Regions from separate parts of the Homo sapiens genome. Here region 2 is linked to region 1. Evidence: fine-mapped expression QTL. Tissue or cell type: whole blood. Region 1 holds a variant in brackets; the other region holds the start of a gene. All regions are shown on one strand. Distances are between the middles of the regions.

The links. PIP is the estimated chance that this variant, and not a neighbour inherited with it, causes the effect.
Region 2: SLC7A1 starts here. The variant in region 1 is fine-mapped to the expression of SLC7A1 in whole blood (TOPMed, PIP above 0.99).

What each region holds. Positions count from the first base shown.
Region 1 is chr13:29,835,087-29,837,849 of GRCh38, forward strand. All of the region lies in intron 1 of UBL3 (ubiquitin like 3), which reads right to left. Among named protein-coding and RNA genes, the nearest start is that of UBL3, 14 kb to the right of the region's middle. The variant C/T (reference allele first, on the strand shown) is at 1,433.
Region 2 is chr13:29,594,213-29,596,712 of GRCh38, forward strand. It overlaps SLC7A1 (solute carrier family 7 member 1), which reads right to left and starts at 1,476. Exons shown (of 13, transcript NM_003045.5): 1 at 1,204-1,476. RefSeq lists silencers at 140-434, 603-1,842 and an enhancer at 363-492.

The DNA of each region.
Region 1 (2,763 bases):
TAAATATATATATATATATAAATATATATATATATATAAATATATATATATATATATATATATATATATATATATATATATATATATATATATATATATCTCCACCCTCCTGGAATCTATGGCCTACTGGGGAGGACAAATAACTGAATTACAAAGTGTGATACATGCTCCAGAAGAAATCAATATGGTCTTGCAACAGAAACCAAGGGAGTAAAGGCTCTCAACTTTAGATGTCAGGAAAAGCTTCTCTGAAGAAAGAAAAACTACCCATGCAGATGCAGAGAGGGTATAGAAGTATACTGATGAGCATCCTAAGCAAAGACTCTGTGATGCAGAGAGGGTATAGAAGTATGCTGATAAATATCCAGGCCAGGTGCAGTGGCTCACGCCTGTAATCCTAGTAACTCCCAGTGGGTGGCTCCCACTTTGGGAGGCCCAGGCAGCTGGATCATGAGGTCAAGAAATCAAGACCATCCTGGCCAACATGGTGAATCCCCATCTCTACTAAAAACACAATAATTAGCTGGGTGCGGTGGTGCGTGCCTGTAGTCCCATCTACTCGGGAGGCTGAGGCAGGAGAATCACTCGAACCTGGGAGGCGGAGGTTGCAGTGAGTTGAGATCGCGCCACTGCACTCCAGCCTGGCAACAGAGCTAGACGCTGTCTCAAAAAAAAAAAAAAAAAAAAAAAAAAAAGTATATTGATGAATATCCAAGGCAAAGACTCAGCCTTGCTGTGGGATAGGGCTTGTAGCATGTTTGAGGAACTGAAAGGGAGCCAATACAATTAAAGCATAGCAAATCAAATGAGATGACATAGTCATGTTAGACAGGAGCTAGATCATGCAGGACCCTGAAGGCCCAAGGAAAGGATTTGTAATTTTATTCTATGGAAATTTATTCTTCAATGGAAAACACTCAAGGTATTTTTGGAAAAGGTACTACAGGGAATGTGAATCAAAGTAGAAGGATTAGTTCCAAGATTAATACAATAGTCCAGGAGAGAGAGGGTACTTGAACTAGGTTGGTAGCATGATGAAGAGAAGTAGATGGATTCTAGATATACTTTGAAAGTGACTGAATATAAAGAATGAGGAAAAGAGAGGAATCAAGGATGGCTCCAAGAGACGTCTGACTTAAGCAACTGCTTGGCTGATGGTGCCATGGTAAGTAACATAGTAATTAGTTTTAGCAGTTCTTAGCAACTAGAAGGATAAAAGAGAGAGAGGACTGCCAATTCTACAGCACAAAACAGCAAAAATAAATAAATAAACAAATAAATAAATAAATAAATAAAATAAAACCAGGGTACGAAAAGAAAAGGCAATTAGGCTACCTATGAGAGAACAGCAATATCAGACCAAATTTCCCATGGAAAACAACTATAAAAGTGATATAAAATGCCCCTAAATCCCCAGCTATTTGAAGGTTTC[C/T]GGAGAACAACCAAGGGTCAGGACTTGAGGAGCCAAGATCCCTTAGAGAAGGGAAACACTTTGAAGATCTCCCTTCAATTCCCCCTTGAGGTATTTGCCAATTACCAGTACAGAGCAAAAGGCCAAGCAGAAAGCAGCATCCCAGAACTTGTATGAATCTCACTGGGCTGGGAAGACACAAAAAGTGGATGTTGTACCACCAAAGGGCCAGGAATTGAGGATCTCAGGAAAATAAAAAGGAACCTCAAAGAAAGGGGCCCAATATTCTGTTCAACTTTTCCTCTCCAGGAATGTGCTGAATTGTAAACAGCATGGACTGAAATTCAGAAAATCCCAACAAAAAGATGTTGAAAAGAGGTTTTAAAAATAGCTTTCATCAGCCTCATGATACCTGAAATTCAGGACTTGCCAAGGAAGAGGTATCTTGGTAAACATGGCAAACTTTCAACTGAGACCTTAGCTAAGGGCTATACACCAGTAGTCCACCAATAGTGAGGCTATCAGAATTTCCTGACTGCCCTGAATTCAGGCTCATGTCTTATCAGTCACTTACGAATCAAAGTAATCAATGTTTTTCTAACTACTCACCAGAGGATATTAAATCCTATACGGAGAAACATAACCATAATTCAGATTCTCTATAATTTTTCATCACAATGTTAATAAAACATTGCCAGGCACCCAAGGAAAAAGGATCAAATAATCAAAAACAAAACAACAGAAACAGGCTCACAGACAATCTAGGTATGACGGTCATCAGACAGGAATTTTGCAACAGTAGTTAATATACTCAAGAAAACAGATGAAAACATAAGAATTTGAATCTATGTAAATTTTAGGATAAAAAATACAAAAACTAAAATTAAAAACTCAATAATTAGAAATAACTGGATACTGGACAGTGAAAATACAAGTGAACATGAAGATAGGTTGCTAGAAAATCTCTAGGCTTACGAGAAGGGGAAAAAAGAATGGAAACAGTGACATGACCTAACATACACGTAATTGTAGTCCCATAAGGAAAGAAGACAATTGAATAGAAATAATACTTAAAGAATATTAGCTAATTCCCGGGCCAGGTGCCTATAATCCCAACACTTTGTAATCATGCCTGTAATCATGCCTGTAATCCCAACACTTTGTAATCATGCTTGTAATCCCAACATTTTGGGAGGCTGAGGCAGGCGGATCACTTGAGGCCAGGAGTTTGAGAACAGCCTGGCCAATACGGCAAAACCACGTCTCTATGAAAAATACAAAAATTAGCCGGGCGTGGTGATATGCGCCTGTAATCCCAGCTACTAGGGAGGCTGAGGCACTAGAATCACTTG
Region 2 (2,500 bases), 240 kb before region 1:
TCGGCCAGAGGCCGACATACACAATTCTACTAGTCGAATGTAAGTAAGATAAAAGGCACATTCTTTAGGGAGATACACCTGGGATTGAAATCTCAACCATCTGGTAACTATGTCTGGACTAAAACCCAACACATGAGGGCATGGCGGTGATGACGTGAGTATTGGGAAATGTAGGTTATTTATTTATTTTTTTCCTGAAGGCACATGTCTGACTATCCTAGTCACACAAGTCAAACACAACTGCTGTCTGGTTCCCCCATCCCCTGGAAAGGGTCAGGAGCTGAACCAGCAGGCTGTTGTAGTACTACAGTGCAGCTGCCGCTCTGTGTACGCGCAGGTTTTAGAATGACTCTGACCTGCCCATGCCTGGGAAGTTTTCTACTACGCAGAAAGGAACACCCTGAGAATACGGTGTCTTGCTAAAGGCGGAAGAACTTCCTCTCATTCCAAACCATGTGGAGGGCTTGAGGAACCCGGCCTTTCCAGGCCACACTGGGTCACAAGGAAGCCCACCTAGGGGAGACTTCCTCAAAGCAATCTTGGGGACCCAGACGAGAGGTGCAGGCGGCGCGTCCCGGGTTCTAGGGACAAGCGGAGAGCCAGGCGCCCTAGGTCAGGGCGGCCACCGGGCGGGGATGGCAGCAGAGTCCCTGGGCCGGCCACCTGCCGCGGGACCACCCTCCGGGCGGCCGGGCAGAGTCCCCACCCACGGCTGATGACACATCCCCGGACCTCGTGGCGGGGCGGGGTGCTCTGCACCGCGCCATGTAAGGGAAGGTCTCCTCGCCGCCGGCGGGCTCCGTGTGCCTCCCAGTCTGGCCCCCGTGCCCGCCGCCCGCCTACGCACCCCGACCACCCCGTGCGTAGCGGCGCGCGGGTCCCCGGACAGGCGCGCGGAGCGGGCATCGCCAGATCGCCCACGCTTACTCACTCGGTGTTGCATCATGCACCACGCCGCGGTTTCAGGGAGCCAAAATGGACTCCGTGGAGGCGACAGTCGCATGGGCACCAGCCCCGCTCGCCCACTCCGGGGCCCGCCCGGCCCTGGTCCTGGCCCTTCCCAGAGGATGGCAGCGTTCCCGGCGCGGGGGCCCTCGCCACTCCCGCGCCGCCCTGCCGCGGCCCCACGCGGCGCCAGGGCCCCCTCCGTGATGACCCGGGCCCAAGGAGCTGCCCCCTGCGTTGGCGGGGCCGGGCACTCACCAAGCCGGCGGCGGCGGGGCTCCGGCAGGATCGCGAACAGACAGACTGTCGGACGCGCTCAAGGACCAACGGACGCTCGGCCGGCGAGACCGGGCGGGGCGGGGCGGGGCGGGGGCGCGGCGCGCGGGGAGAGGAGTGGAGGCTGCGGTTAGCGGGAGCCCGCGGCCGCGTGCGCGCCTGCCAGGTAGTTGACCCGCTGCTCACACCTGCCTGCGCGGACTGAATGGGCGCCGAGGGCTGGCGGGTTCCGGCGCCAGGTTTCATCAGCAGTGCGCCCGGCCCCCGCCCCTCGCGCTCCGCGCCCCGCGCCCCACGCCCGCCCCCGGACCAGGCAGCCCCGGCCCGCTCGGCCGCGTCACCGCCGGGCACCAATGGGAGCGCGGCGCGGCGGCGGCTGCCAGCCCAGAGGCTGCGGCCGGGGACCGACGCGCCCTTGGTGGGCGGGGCGGCTGAGTCTTCGCGCGCCCAGCGCCCCAACCTGGGGTTCCCGCGGCGGGCGGGCGGGCTGCGCCTCCGCTCGCCTTCTCAGTAGCTCCGTAGGCGTGTGGCCGTTTCTCCGCCAATCTGAGCGCACCGCGCCACAGCATCCTGTGGTCCCCTGCAGATCCCACAGCGCCCTGGCCAGAACTAGTGCTGCAGGTCCGGCCGTGCCAACCCCCTCCCGGCGGGCCCCAGGGAGCTCACACGGAACTCGAGACCAGTTTTCCTTCTCCAAAATAAAAGATTTGGTATGCACTTAAAAGGTTTAAACTGTTTTCTTTTCATTTTAGAGACAGGGTGTTACTCTATTGCCCAGGCTGGAGCGCAGTTCACCTTAACCTCGAAATCCTGGCCTCAAGCGATCCTCCCGCCTGGGCCTCCCAAAGCGCCCTAGGATTACAGTCCTGAAACACTGCACCGGCCTAAAAATTATTATAAATCTTCATGTCTTTGTTATTGGATTATTTTATTACTATTCCTTTGCCCTTGCTAATACCTTATCCTTGCCAGTTGTCAGAAGAGCCCCAAAGCTTGAATCTACCTGTGCCCCCTTGGCAGTGGCAAATGCACAAACGGCTAGTCAGAACGGCTCACTTTTGCAGTTACCCCCCAGGAAGTGGCAGAAGCTTCAGTCCTGAATCACACCGTGCTCACCTTTTAAGCTCCCTCCTTGTCTCCTTTTGTACCAAAAGCCAAGCGAGAATCATAATCTTTAAAGATCCAGTGATCTGGGACTTGGGATAGGTAAACAGGGCATAAATTAATAATGCCATCCTTCTTCTATCTTATAGGAAAACAGAAAAACAGTGGACGGTGT